Regions from separate parts of the Homo sapiens genome. Here all the other regions are linked to region 1. The links come from fine-mapping of genetic effects on gene expression. A gene starts in region 1. Each other region holds a variant in brackets. All regions are shown on one strand. Distances are between the middles of the regions. Region 1 holds the start of C2orf92 (chromosome 2 open reading frame 92). Region 2 has its middle 27 kb from the start of TMEM131. Region 3 has its middle 42 kb from the start of FAM178B.

The links. PIP is the estimated chance that this variant, and not a neighbour inherited with it, causes the effect. A credible set is the group of variants that fine-mapping cannot tell apart.
Region 2: its variant is the best candidate, but not a certain one, in a credible set for the expression of C2orf92 in stomach (GTEx, PIP 0.86).
Region 3: its variant is the best candidate, but not a certain one, in a credible set for the expression of C2orf92 in blood mononuclear cells (TOPMed, PIP 0.50).

Annotation. Positions count from the first base shown.
Region 1 is chr2:97,667,228-97,672,457 of GRCh38, reverse strand. It overlaps C2orf92 (chromosome 2 open reading frame 92), which reads right to left and starts at 2,745. Exons shown (of 8, transcript NM_001351368.2): 1 at 2,624-2,745. The coding sequence starts at 2,669.
Region 2 is chr2:98,020,292-98,025,521 of GRCh38, reverse strand. No RefSeq gene overlaps it. Among named protein-coding and RNA genes, the nearest start is that of TMEM131, 27 kb to the right of the region's middle. The variant TC/C (reference allele first, on the strand shown) is at 2,981.
Region 3 is chr2:97,026,323-97,031,552 of GRCh38, reverse strand. It overlaps the pseudogene TRIM43CP. Among named protein-coding and RNA genes, the nearest start is that of FAM178B, 42 kb to the right of the region's middle. The variant A/G (reference allele first, on the strand shown) is at 2,156.

The sequences.
Region 1 (5,230 bases):
GTGCTACCTGCATCTGCTCATGCATCCCCTCCTGGTCACCTGCCAGGCAGTTGTCTATGCAGACTGCCCGAGGCCTCTGTGATGGCTCCCGTGGGGAGGAGCAAGCCCAGCGCTCCTGACACGGACAGCTGCCGGAACGGAATAGAGGCCCATCGGGTGTCGAGAGATCTGCTCCCTTGCAAGCAGGAATGAACAGGCATCGCTCTGTGATCCAAATGCCTCCTAACCCGGGGGGAAGCATCAGCGCCACTCTCCCAGTTGCTCCTTCTCACACCTAAGGTGACCCTCAACCTTCACTCCTGATGCACAGCCCAGGCACCCTCAGGAGAGACTTCACTGGCCTTTGGACAGCTTCCTTCAGCAGACAGCTGTGGTTCAGAACCCTTTTCTCCGTCTCAGCTCTCTGCTAAAGACTTCCCTGGGCCTTAGTTTTTCTCACATGTTCAGTGGAAGGTTCAGAGTGGAGACCAATGAGTCTCAGCCTAGTGTCCCCTGGAGGGTTAGAAAACTACAAATGTGAAGGTCTATCCCCACACCCCAAAATCTGATGTGGGGTGTGTGTGGAATGTCTCAATTGTTAAAAAGAGGATTGCCCCAGGGGTTTTCATGCTCAGTTAGGGCTGAGAACCCCTGGAGGAGGTTCAGCTCGGCTTTGGGGCCTCAGAGCAGAAACTGGCGAGGCAGGTGTGTCACAGCTAGTGTGAGGTGGCATCTGACGCCGCAGTCCCACATGGCCCTGCTCTGCTCCACTGATGCTCAGTAGGGTCCTTTTGAGGTGTTTATCATCTGTTTTGCTTAATTTCCTGAGACTGTGACACGTAGACAGATTCTAGCCTCAAGGAAGAGCACCTGCCTTCCCTTCACAGCAGCGGGAACAGGTTACCTGGGAGACAATGAGGACCATGCACGCAACTCTTCAAATCCAGCCTGAGGTTCCACAGGGAGTGGGGTAACTCACCAAAGATTTTAGCCAAACCTTCATCAGGATTTTTTGAATTTGAGGAAAATTCAGGCCAGGTGCCGTGGCTCACGTCTTTAATCCCAGCACTCGGGGAGGCTGAGGTGGGAGGATCACTTGAGGTCAGGAGTTCGAGGCCAGCCTGGGAAACATAGGGAGACCCCCGACTCTACAAAAAATAAAAATTAATTACCTGGGCGTGGTGGTGTGCACCTGTGGTCCCAGCTACTCAGGAAGCTGAGGCAGGAGGATCCATTGAGGTCAGGAGTTCATGACCAGCCTGGCCAACATGATGAAATCCCATCTCTACTAAAAATTATATTTTAGTAATTACTAATTTACTAGTAACTTACTAATTTAGTAATTTATTAGTTTAGTAAATTAGCCAGGCGTGGTGGCACACGCCTGTAATCCCAGCAACTTGGGAGGCTGAGGCAGGATAATCACTTGAACCTGGGAAGCAGATGTTGCAGTGAGCCAAGATAGCGCCACTGCACTCCAGCCTGGGTGAGAGAGCGACACTCCATCTCAAAAAATTAAAAAATTAAAAATTAAATAAAATTAGATAGTGATGCTTCACAACTCTATGAGTATACTAAAAACCACTGAATTATATACTTTGTAAAGGGTAAATTTGGCCAGACATAGTGGTTCATGCCTGTAATTCCAGCACTTTGGGAGGCCAAGGTAGGAGGATCACTTGAGCCCAGGAGTTTGAGACCAGCCTGGGCAACATAGTGAGATCCCTATTTCTACAGAAATTTAAAAAATTAGCTGGGTGTGGTGGTACATGCCTGTGGTCCCAGCTACCTGGAAGGCTGAAGGGAGGATCCTTGGGCCTGGAATGTTGAGGCTGCAATTAGCTGTGATTATGCCACCGCACTCCAGCTCTGGGTGACAGAGGGAGAACCTATCTCAAAAATAATAACAATAAATAGAAAAATAAAATAAAGGGTGAATTTTATTATATATTATATCCTATAAAGTTATTACTAATTTTTTTTTTTTGAGACAGGATCCCACTCTGTTGCCCAAGCTTGAGTGCAGTGGTGTGATCACGGCTTACTGCAGCCTCGACTTTTTGGGCTCAAGTGATCATCCCACCTCAGCCTCCCTAGTAGCTGGGACCACACGCACGCATCACCATGCATGGCTAATTTTAAAATTTTTTATACAGACAGGCTCTCATGATGTTGCCTAGGCCTGTCACAAACTCCTGAGCTCAAGGAATCCTCCTGCCTTGGCCTCCTAAAGTGCTGGAGTTACAAGAGTGAGCCACTGTACCCGGCCTAACCCTGTTATTTTTTAAATAGTGCATATATATAGATAAAATCAGGAGGGTTAGTTAGCATATGGTGGTTCTTTATACTAATCTTTCTACTTTTGCATATGTTTGGAAATGCTTACAGTGAAAAGTTAAAATACGCATGTATGCCACCCTCCTATAGAGCTCTGAATTTTGAGAAAGCTTCAAAGTTAGGAAAATGTTTTCAGTTACTCCCTTCCCCCAAGTAATAAACCCTGAATGGCAGATTTGGGGAGGTATAGAAGGTAGAGTAGGTAAAGCATCTGTGTTCCCCACACTGTGGGAGGGAACGCCCTCCTCTGCCCCACTTAGGCTTGAAGTGAGGCCCATGTTTCTCTCCAGCTGCCACAGCAATATACCTTGGATCCAGCAGAGAACAAAGAAGAGGGCCATGGCTCTGCTCATCTTTGCCTTAGTCCATAAACCATCATGGAGAAGCCAGTCTTCTGATGGCCCTTCAGATTCAGCAGCTGTGGACTCCAGGGTACCACGGAACCTAACGGTCTATGAAGTCATACACGGAAGTGAGGTGGAGCCTGCTCAACCATGAGAAGGGGAAGGGCCTGTGTCTGTGGACAGTGACGGGGGCTATGCTGGTGGCCCTGAAGTGACTGCCTCTCTGCTCACTTCCCTCGGCTCCCTGGTGCCTTCCTCCATCCTGCATGTCCTGAGGGCAACAGGATATTAACCAGGACTCTGAAGTCACAAGTGATAAAACTTCAACTAAATTGGCTGAAGCGAATTGGAAGTAGCTAGAATAGCCAGAAAAATCCTATGATCAATCAAGACATCACAGCCGGGCGCAGAGGCTCACACCTGTAATCCCAGCACTTTGGAAGGCTGAGGCAGGCGGATCACCTGAGGTCAGGAGTTCCAGACCAGCCTGGCCAACATGGTGAAAGCCCGTCTCACTAACAAAGTGTTGCTGCTTATTATATTAGGTAAAATTATAACACCAAAAATAGCATAGACCAATTGATACGCCCATTTTGTTACTCACGTGTCACTATTTCCCTCTATTACATTTTATAAGTATTAAACTGTTTTCAAAGGAAAAATCTATTATAGTACCTTGTACTACACTTTTTTCTAGTTTTTTCTCCATGTTCATTTTGTAATGGGTCCCACAAATTATGTAGCCAGCCCTGCCCTTGAGCCTTCATGTTCTTACAGTGTCTGTTCCATGGCTGAGATGGCAGATATCTTTTAGGGGTAAAAACTTGCACAAAGAGTTATATAGGGCCGGGCACGGTGGCTCACACCTGTAATCCCAGCAATCTGGGAGGCCAAGGCAGGCAGATCACTTGGGGTCAGGAGTTCAAGACCAGCCTGACCAACATGGTGAAACCCCATCTCTACTAAAAATACAAAAATTAGCCAGGTGTGGTGGCGAGTACCCATAGTCCCAGCTACTTGGGAAGCTGAGGCAGGAGAATCACTTGCACCTGGGAGGTGGAAGCTGCAGTAAGCCAAGATCACACCACTACACTTCAGCCTGAGCAACCGGGCGAGACTCTGTCTCAAAAAAGAAAAAAGAAAATAATCTGCATAGAAGTGGACCCGCACAGTTCAACCCTGTGTTGTGTAGATGCTGACTGAATCGTCTCCCAGTTCTGGAGGCTGGAGGTCTGAGATCAAGACGTCAGCAGGGCTGGTTCTTTCTGAGGCTGTGAGGGAAGTCTCTGTTCCAGGACGTGGGCTCAGATGGCCATCTTCTCCTTGGGCTTGCAAGACATCTTCCCTCCATACACACCTGAGTCCACATTTCCTCTTCTAAGAACACAGGATCATATCGGATTAGGGCCTGCCCTAATGACTTCATTTTAACTTGATTTCCTCTGTAAAGACCCTATCTCCAAATACAGTCACATTCTGAGGTTCGGCGGGGTGGCTAGGACTTCAACATATGAAGAGAGGGTACCATGTAATCTGTAACAGCAGGTCATGGTAACCACAGAAATCTTATTTCTCTAAAATACCTTCCAAAACAAAAACAAAAACTAGAATAAAAAATAACAAAGAATATATAAAACAACACAAAACCCACACCCTCACCACAACCACAGGACAGAAAATGTCCAAATTCCAAATGACTGGTAAATAGAAAAATAAATGCTAACCCGGGCTCCATCTCTTTTGCTTCTGCTGCTGGCCTTTGCAAAGAGGAAACCTGGAGGTTGAAGAGGGTCTAAAATCTCCATCCTGAGTTTGCAAATGCTGAAAGCGTAACCTGGTTGATCAGTACAAATACCCAGGGGTGGAAGTGCCCTGGGGACAGGAGATTGGTGAGACTCTCTCACCAATGGACTCTCTCTCCCTCTCTAAAAAAACAATGATGTTTATTCAGGAACGGGCATTACAATGGGAATAAGTATGGATGTGTTCCAGGAGGTAAAGGAAGACATTTTTTAAAGAAAAAATGAAAAGGGTTACATAGGCTTTTATAAGACAATCATCTTTGGGGCCAGGCACGGTGGCTCACACCTGTAATCCCAGCATTTTGGGAGGCCGAGGCAGGCAGATCACAAGGTCAGGAGATCGAGATCATCCTGGCTAACACGGTGAAACCCCATCTCTACTAAAAATACAAAAAATTAGCCAGGCGTGGTGGTGGGCGCCTGTAGTCCCAGCTACTCGGGAGGCTGAGGCAGGAGAATGGCATGAACCCGGGAGGCGGAGCTTGCAGTGAGCCGAGACCGCACCACTGCACTCCAGCCTGGGTGACAGAGTGAGACTCCATCTCAAAAAAAAAAAAAAAAAAAACTTAGCTGGGCATGGTGGCGGGAACCTGTGATCCCAGCTACTAGGGAGGCTGAGCCAGGAGAATTGCCTGAACCCGACAGGTGGAGGTTGCAGTGAGCCCAGATTGCGCCACTGCACTCCAGCCTGGGCAACAGAGAAAGATTGTCTCAAAAAAAAAAAAAATAAAAAAGAGACCTGAAGGTGCCTCATATACTGTTCAGAGA
Region 2 (5,230 bases), 350 kb before region 1:
TATAAAAGGCAAGAAGAAGGTAATAAAATCAAAGTGTTCTGGTCAGGTGTGGTAGCTCATGCCTATAATCCCAGCGCTTTGGGAGGCTGAGGTGGGAGGATCCCGTGAGCCCAGTTTAAGACCAGCCTGGGCAACATAGCAAGACCTTGTCTTTACCAAAAATCTAAAAAATTAGCAAGATGCAGTGATGCGCACCTGTAGTCCCAGCTTCCCTGGGGTGGGGTGGGGCATCGGTGGGAGGATTGCTTGAGCCCAGGAGGTGGAGGCTGTAGTTAACTGTGATTGTGCCACTGCACTCTAGCCCCAGTGACAGACTGAGACCCTGTCTCCAAAACTACATATAATAAAGCATTCTAAGGTCGTTGCACTGTCTGAAAAGTGGTGAAAGCATTAATTTAAGGGACACTCACAAAGTCAAAAATGCATTTTGCAATCTCTAAGGCAAGCGAATAATAAGAGAATATGTAACTAATAATAAAGGAAGGGGCATGAAATGGAATAACAAAAACACAACCAAAAAAAGGTTGTTAATCTAAAAGAAGTCAAGAAAGGATAAATATTAAAAAACAATGAAAATATAGAACAAATAGAAAAATGGATAAGACGGTTGATTTAAACCCAGATATAGAATTAATTATATTAATGTAAATGAACTAAGTAATTAAAAACCGAAAACATTGTCAGACTCAATTAAAATGAGCCAAAAACTATGCTGCTTAAAAGAAATATTTTAAATATAGAAACTATGAAAGGTTGAAATTAACAGGATAGAAAAAATATAACCAAAAGTAAATTGTGTAGCTTTGCTATATCAGACAAAGTAGACTTTAAGACAAGAACTATTATTAGAGACAAAGAACATTTTATAATAATAAAAGAGTCAATTTAACAAGAAAATGTGATTATTCTAAATAATCCAGAAGTCAACATAGAAATCACAATGGAAATTATGAAATATTTTAAATGATAAAAAAAACAGACAATGTATGGCATTCAGCTAATGTCATACTTAGAGGGAACTTTGTGGCATTAAATGCATTTATAATGGGAGAAAAAGGCTGAAAAGCAATTACCTAAGTAACTATTTCAAGAAACCTAGAAGATAATCATCAAATTAAAACCAAAAGAAATAGAAAGAAGAAAATAATAAAGAACAAAAATCAATGTAATAAAAAACAAACATGCAATACTTAAAAATCTAAGAAGCCTAAAATTAGTTTTTAGACTAATAAAATTGATAATCTCCTACCTGAACCAATGAAGAAAAATAGAGAAAAAGCATAAAACACCAACATACAGTTATAAAGATCCTAAAGACAATAAGAGGATAATGAGAAGGCAATATAAATAACTTGATACCAATAAACTTAGACATTTAGATGCAATGAGCAAATTCCTCGAAAAGCACTATTTTCCAAAATAGTCACAATGAGGAATAAAAAATATAAGTCATTCTATATTTATTAGGTAAAAATGAATATATAATTTAAAATCTGTCACAAAGAATAAGCTAAGCTCTGATGGTGCCAATAGAAAATTTCTCCCAATATCCCACGATATTATGTAAACCTTTACAGAGAAAAGACAAAAAGATTAAGAGGCCAGCACAACATAAATTGTATCACAACCTGAAACTTCAGTTAAAAAGTTTGTTGTTGTCGTTGTTTGAGATGCAGTCTCGCTCTGTCACCCGGACTGGAGTACAGTGACGCGACCTCTGTTCACTGCAACCTCTGAGTAGCTGGGATTACAGGCGCCCACTATGATGCCCGGCTCATTTTTGTACTTTAAGTTGAGACAGGGTTTCACCATGTTGGCCAGGCTGGTCTCAAACCCCTGATCTCAGGTGATCTGCCCACCTTGGCCTCCTAAAGTGCTGGGATTACAGACGTGAGCCACCGCATCAGGCCAAAAAGTTTACTTTAAAAAGAATCCACTAGAACAGCAGTCCCCAACCTTTTTGGCACCAGGGACTGGATTCATGGAAGATAACTTTTCTACAGATGGGAAGGCTGTGGGGTGGTTTCGGGATGAAACTGTTCCACCTCAGATCATCAGGCATTAGATTCTCATAAGGCACGTACAACCTAGATCCTTCTCATGCACAGTTCACAATAGGGTTTGTGCTCCTTTGAGAATCTAATGCCACCGCTGATCTGACAGGAGGCAAAGCTGGGGCGGTAATACTCCTTGCTCACCCACCTCCTGCTGCACGGCCCAGTTCCTAACAGGCCACGGACCAGTACCAGTCCACGGCCCAGGTATTGGGGACCCCTAGTCTATCCTGTTGGAAAGTCTCTAGTTATATAATTACAAGTTTGTTGGATGCTTCTGACTGGTTGAGCTTAAGTTCTGTTTTCCTTTAATACAAATATTTACAAGAAATAGCTCGAGTTAAGTTTTGCTTATGTTTACAAATCAAGCAAGGTCGTGGTCATTTGTGAGGCCTGACTTATGGTTCTGTCTGCTCAGGGGTTCTTCAGACCTGGTCTCCATTTTAATGGACTGTATCATTAGAGCCTGCCTGCATCCAATGACTGTACCTCTCTTCATGTAGAACCCTCTCTTATGAGGATAAGAATTTCTGTATAGCTTTGCATAAATGAAACCAAGGATGCAGGCTCTGCAGCAGATTTAAGAGATTTTCTAAGGCACTTCTGGTTCTGCTTGATTTTTGCCTCTGGGCTAATTACGACACATTATCTGCTCATCAATTTCGATGCCACCGCATAACAGATAGAGAGGATGTAGTGTGAGAAGATAGATTCTACATACCCACGCACACACACACACAATTGAGGGGAGGATGAGGGGGAAAAGGATTTATGCATGTACAGGCATTTCTGCCTTCACCTGAAGCATAGATAAGAACTCAGGAGTTCTCATCAGCGTGGACTTCCCCGGCAGAGGAACTGAATATGCAAAGACATGGAGGCATAAAGGTCGAGGCTTGTTGAAAAACTAAGGAGTCACTTGTGTT[TC/C]CTCTCTCTGGTGAGGGGACATTAGCTCATGATCCTGACAGAGGGATAGACTGCTGACATTTTCTCTTTGGTTCCTAGTGTTAAATCTAGTTAAATGGTTCCAATGGGCTGGGAGTGCAATTAACAAGCAGCAAGAGCACCCCAGGGACACTGGTTATGGAGTCCTCTTAGGGCAGCACTGCCCAATAGAACTTTCTGTGATCATGGAAATGTTCAGCAGCTACACTGTCGAATATGATAGTCACTAGCCATATGTGACCATTTAGCATTTGTGGCCAGTGGGAATGAGGAAGTGAATTTTTTTTTGAGATGGAGTCTTACTCTGTTGGCCAGGCTGGAGTGTAGTGGTGCCATCTCGGTTCACTGCAACCTCTGCCTCCCGGGTTCAAGCAATTCTCCTGCCTCAGCCTCCCTAGTAGCTGGGACTACAAGCATGTGCCACCACACCCAGCTAATTTGTGTTTTTTTAGTAGAGATGGAGTTTCACCATATTGGACAAGATGGTCTTGAACTCCTGACCTCAGGTGATCCACCTGCCTCAGCCTCCCAAAGTGCTGGGATTACAGGCGTGAGCCACCACACCCGGCCAGGAAGTGAATTTTTAGTTTCAGTTAATTTAAATTTAACTAAGCTTGAATTTAAATAGGTACATGTGGCAATACATAACAGCAGCTCTGGGGACACCCTCCATGATCACAGCTCCTGGTCCTCCAGTCTGCTGTGGCAATTCCCCATAGGCTTTTCCCTTCTACCATTCGTTAGCATTTCTTGAGCAATTACTATGGGTAGAGTTCTGAATTCGATGCTGATGGGAGCAAACGATGGAACAGGCATGGTCCCTGACTTCTAGGAGCTTGTGTTCTAGAGAGACAGAACTAAGGGAAGGCCACTCGGTGAGTGCAGTGGCCAGAAGGGCCCAGGGTTCTGGGACAGCACGAGGAGGGCTGCAGCCCTGTCTGTTGTTCAGGGGTGGCTTCTCAGAAGGCAGAGGCATGAGGCTGAACTGGCACTGGGAATGGAGGTTGGGGAAGGGCCAAGTGGAGGAGGCGGCGCCCTGCTGTTGTCATGGCAACACTGGGGCCCTGGCATTCATAGCCTGCCCCTGTGCTGCTATGTAATGAAGCCACCAAACTGTGGTAGGGAATTGCCATTCATGTAATTTATTTTTATACCTTATTTCCTCCCTGAAACAGTTGAGGAGAATTGTGAGAGCAAACACACAGCACAACAGGATAAAAATAGCCCTTCAAGTGAAGGGAAAGCAAGGAGACCTGGTCAGATGAAGCCGGAGGGCTCCAGGGTAATCTCCAGCCCTGGGGAGCCGTCAGATGCGTTACTCACATAGAGACGGCCTGCCCGCTGTGTTATCTGGGAGCCCAGGCACTTGGCATCACTGCAGCCTGGTCCTGGGCAGGCCCAAAGATGGGAGTAATTTGAGGAAGCAGAACCATGGGGTCCTCTCAGTTTCATAAGTGCTGAAGGACATAGAACTGAACCCTTGACCTAGCACCCAGTGATGGGTGGAATCGTGTTCCCCGGAAAAGATATGTTGACTGACATCCTAGCCCCCTGTACAGTGTGAGCACTGTAACCTTATTTGGAAATGGGGTCTGTCCAGATGTAATCAAGTTGAAATGAAGTCAGTCATTCAGGTGGGCCCTAATCCAGTATGACTGGTATCCCTATAAAAAGGAGAAATCTGAACACAGAGACAGACACGCAGAAAGAAGATGGCCACGTGAAGAGGGAGGATTGGGGCAATGCACCTACAAGTCAAGAAAAACCAACGTCTGCTGGCAAACTGGTAGAAGCTAGGGAGAGGCAAGGAAAGGTCTTTTCCCTGCAGGTTGCAGAGGGAGGTGGCCCTGTCCACACCTTGATTCCGTCCTTTCAACCTCCAGAATTGTGAGATAATCATTTCCGTTCCTCGAAGCCACCTTGTTTGCAGTGTTTTTTTACAGCAACTCTGGGAGGCTCAGACACACCCTGATTCACAACTTGCTGCTTAAAAGGCTGTTGGAATGAGGGCCAGCTTGGGAGCATGTGAGGGGCTGAGACTGTGAGGTCAGGGGCCAAGGGGGACTGTATAGCAGAAGGTGCCCAGTGTGGGGAAAGGAGGAATGTGTCAATGACAGGGATTGTTCCTAACTCGAGAAACCTTCTTCACCATTAATTTCACTTCTATTGTACCACAAGGAATGGAAGGAGACCACACATACAGAAATTTCAGTTCACTCACAGTCTTAGAA
Region 3 (5,230 bases), 640 kb after region 1:
TCTGCTGTGGGCACAGCTTCTGCAGGCCCTCTCTGCCTTTCCTGGGAGGAAGCCCAAAGTCCTGCCAACTGCCGTGCATGCAGGGAACCATCACAGAAAAAGGACTTCAAAACCAATATTCTTCTGAAGAATTTAGTGACCATTGCCAGAAAAGCCAGTCTCTGGCAATTCCTGAGCTCTGAGAAACAAATATGTGGGACCCATAGGCAAACAAAGAAGATGTTCTGTGACATGGACAAGAGTCTCCTCTGCTTGCTGTGCTCCAACTCTCAGGAGCACGGGGCTCACAAACACTATCCCATCGAAGAGGCAGCTGAGGAACACCGGGTAAGAGATAGCTCTGTGATCACCTGAAAGCTGGAGGGTGGCAGAGTTAAAGAGATTAGAAGGATGATGAGAATCACGGTGATTACTCCATTCTTTACTGAGTGCCAGGTGCTGTTCTAGGTACCAATGATGACATTTTGAATAAAATGTGCAACTCTACCTTCCTTCATGGAGCTTGCACCCAAAAAGAGACTGATTAAGTAAATGTCATTATTATTGACTCTACAGTTCAATGCTAATGACATTGAAAAGCTACCAAAGCTACCAGTGCAAAGAAATGTATTTTGGAAATATATTTAATATTACTGGACAAATGAGTATGGGAGTAGCACGCTACAAAATCAGGGGCTAGCATAGTGGATTCTGAAGCAGGATGTTTCCCTGAACTAATTTAGCTGGGTTACAGGAAATCTTCATTCTTCAGTTCCCTAAACTGTTCTACATTCTGAAACCTCAAACTGAAAAATATCAATTAAGGATGAGCAATGAAAAATTTTGGTTTTTTCTCCTCTCACTAATGTATTTATATATTAGATCCCTTGCCTGTGTATACCACTCAGATTGTGGAATCTTTGGTATTTGACTTTCTGTTGTTCAACCTTGTAATTCTTTTGCAGGAGAAACTCTTAAAGCAAATGAGGATTTTATGGAAAAAGATTCAAGAAAATCAGAGAAATCTATATGAGGAGAGAAGAACAGCCTTCCTCTGGAGGGTGAGTATGAGACCGTGAGTCCTCCTGACCAGCTTGAGACAGGCATGCTGACAACATTTATATTAGCAACTTGAGTTGAAATTCTCATATGCCAGATTTTGTCATGTGTTTATTCATAGGCTGGAAAACAACCAGACTGTTCAATATAATGATTGTTCAGGTTTTCTGTAAATGCTTTTCAGATAAGTAAAAAATAAATATAAATTCTGAAGGGCAAGTATGTGCTTAAAATTAATAAGTATTTCAGACAGAGTTTTCTGTATAAAATTAATTATGAAATGTTGATTAAATAGTATATAATTGAGAAATAAAGGCATTTATTGGTGAATATGATATTGTCCAGGGGGAAGAAATCGGGTGGGAACAGTAATTTAAGAAATGTGCCTGTGCTGGTGAAATCTGATAGCAAAGGACCCACATGATGCCAGTCCAAGTAGGAGAAAATGCAACGTGAGGAAAAGCTGAGGAGAAGGGATAAAAAATGACTGGGGCAGTGAGAGGATAAATATGTCATTATTGAGAGGAGAAACACAATGGAATGGGGATTAATGTTCTTAGAATGGCAGTGCAATACAGAGTCTATGGATTTGACAGAAGAAAGACAGGAGACAGAAAAGAGGTAGTCGGTTTGAGAGATGGGGGTTAAATTTTTTACTAAGATCTTTTTTGTGTGATGGCTTCTGATCCTGATTATAATATACTAAAAACATTTCTACTAAGAGTGATTGTTCAGGCTGTGAAGTACAGAGATTTGAAACAACAACCTAATTGAGTAACAAAGATTATGTGTATTATCCATGACAACTGAACAATCAATCATAAATTTTAGTTGTTTTCTAATGGTATTTCCGATTTGAGAGGACATAGATTTAAACATTTAAATCCAAAGGGCTTTTTTGCAGATGTTTGGGAATTGATGAATTACACAAATTTTGAAGGAAGGTCTTGCTTAACTCATCATCCTGTTTGTAAAGGATGGAAAATAAAAGAAGGAATGAGGAGGATGAAGTTGTGGGTTCTGTGATGTGGAAGTAGGCCTGGGTATATAACCTACAAAATTCATATCCCTACAGGGCGATGTGGTTTTACGGGCACAGATGATCAGGAATGAGTAT[A/G]GGAAGCTGCATCCGGTTCTCCATAAGGAAGAAAAACAACATTTAGAGAGACTGAACAAGGAATACCAAGAGATTTTTCAGCAACTCCAGAGAAGCTGGGTCAAAATGGATCAAAAGAGTAAACACTTAAAAGAAATGTATCAGGAACTAATGGAAATGTGTCATAAACCAGATGTGGAGCTGCTCCAGGTAAGAACGGAGGATGCCCCTTGAGACACTTTGTGTTAGCTGACCTTTACATCTTTGCCTTCCATTGGGTACCAAAGACATTATTTCTTCGTTTCCTGCACTGACGATGAGAGTCATTCCCACCGGTTATAGAGATAAACTATAACTCCTACCCTATATAATGGAAATAAAGCTTTATGGAATTGTGCAACTAGCTTTCCATACAACATTTTCTACCACAAGCTTCCTCCTCCAGCGCATTTCATTAAAACTCTGGAAGAAAAAATTTCATGTGAAAATTCTATTTTTAACTCCAATGGATAATACATAGAAATTATGGAAAAACTGACATTTCCTTCTTCCTCCTTTTGGGAAGTCCTAGGTTTGAAATGCTCTTGATTTGAGCCACATTACACTTTGGGGACTAGCCCTGAAAAAGACCACGTTGTAGACAGCTGCAGCAATGCGCAGTCACTACTCACACCTTTCTCTCTCACTCAAATTTAGGGTCCTTAATTTATCAGAAATCCATATTGTCAATAGGTCTTACTGGTATAATTGTTAGAGATAAGAATACATTTTAAAATAGTTGCAGTGATAGTATGTGGTAATTCTAAAGTTTTCAAAACCTGAAGACCAGATAGGCAGAATAACAACTTTTTTGTGTGTTTATTTTGAGACAGAGTCTTCTTCTGTCACCCAGACAGAAGTCCAGTGGCCCAATCTCAGCTCACTGCAACTTCTGCCTCCTTGGTTCAAGCAATTCTCCTGCCTCAGCCTCCCTAGTAGCTGGGACTAAAGGCATGCACCACCACACCCCACTATTTGTGTGTGTGTGTGTATTTTTAGTAGAAATGGGATTTGCCATGTTGTCCAGGCTAGTCTGGAACTCCTGACCTCAGGTGTTCCACCCACCTTGGCCTCCCAAAGTGCTGGGATTACAGGTGTGAACCACCTCACCCAACAAGAATAACAACTTTCTAAAGAAGTCATTTTTTTTTTCTCTCTCTCTCTCTACAGGATTTGGGAGACATCGTGGCAAGGTATGTTTTTGGCCACCAGTGCAAACTGGAGCACAAGGCATGCTATGAAAAACATCAAGCTGTTTCCAACAAAGTGAAAACATAATTTACTAACACCATAATGTGTCAGTGTGATTGTGTGTGTATGTGTGTGTACTCATGTGTTTATGTGGTATGATGAATGTCACCTATGCCTTTTATCAGATATTAATCTTTTCTTACTTTCCCAGGTGACTCAGGGGTTTATGTTTTGAAGAGTGCAATGCAGAGGTTGCTAGAATACAGTTGCCTCTTTTTGCGATTCAGAATCATAATTAGAGATAAACTATTTGGTGGCAGATAGGGAGAGAGGCATTTATCTTTCAGTGGCAGTAGGTTAGAAATGGAGTGAATAGTTAGAAAGATTCCCTAAGAGCCACAAACCCAACCTAGCGTTGTGGAGGTACATTACGGTATCAGAAGTGAGCTTGAATGAAGCATTTTCTATTGTAATCTGTTTCTTAAACACAGACATCAGAAAGTTAACCAACTCAACCTACTTCCTTGCAGGAGTGAGCCCGTGCTGCTGCACATGCCCCAGCCTGTGAATCCAGAGCTCACAGCAGGGCCCATCACTGGACTGGTGTACAGGCTCAACCGCTTCCGAGGTGAGTGTGGCCCTGTTGGTGGGATCCCCATGCAATGCCTTCAATTATGGTTTTCTATGGGCAGCTTTCCCAGTGTAATGATCTTTCATCTAGAAGAAGAGAATAGCCTGTGAATAGGTATTTATAGTTTCACTATCATCAAACAGACAAAACAAAATAAAAGCTGGTGAAATGTAATAGGAATCAGCCATATAACAAATTTCTTAGAAAAATAAAACATGCAGAAGGGCTCTTTAGGACTTTAGGAACCATTCTCTGATACAATTTCATGTATACAATTATTACATGAAGTATACAGAACTGAATTCAGGACATTTCAATTTCAAATTCAGTGCAGTTAACGACTGATTTGAGTGACAGTGTTTTTTTTAAATACATTTTTAGGTGAAGTTTCATAGCATTTATAATTTTAATCATGTTTTTAATCAACTAAAGCATACATGAGTAACTTATATAACAATGCAAAAACTGAGAATCTGTCAACAATAGGAACAGGATTTGGTGGTTGACGAGGTCTTAGATAGAACTCCAGGATAGATCATGACAAATCCAGCAGAATAAAAGAAGTCTGTGCCTGAATCTGGCATGAAAGTCAGATAATTCTTGCAAGGAATCTGCACTTTTCAGAAGGCAGATTCAGATTTTCTCTTTAAGTATGAATTTGCTAGGTTAAGTGGCAGATCATAATATTTCTGGAAAGTGATAACTTTTTTATTTGGGACTAAGAATGGCTGCCCACCTCATCTCCTGTCCAAAGCCTCCTGCTCTGCCCTGACAGAGAAGAGACAATGAAGGTTAATTTTATTGCTATGGACTTGGCTGCAGTGCAGGAGCTTCCAGTTTTTCAGTTGTTATGAAAGGTCGCTAACGAGACATAGACATGACCTTCCTCCCCTTTATACTTTTTGAGTTTATGGAAATTGTGATCATCCTAGTTTAGCCATTTACTTGTGCAGATCTCCTAACACCCTTTGATTCCAACATTTTTCCAGACAGAAGTTTCTTTCTAATCTTGACCTGTGTTTTCTAGTGAGAATCTCTTTCTTATCTGAACATAAGAATTTGTAAACTGCTTTTCACTGGAATATTCTCTTTTTTCTACAGTGGAAATTTCCTTCCATTGTGAAGTAACCAATCACAATATCAGGCTCTTTGAGGATGTGAGAAGTTGGATGTTTAGACGTGGACCTTTGAATTCTGACAGATCTGACTATTTTGCTGCATGGGGAGCCAGGGTC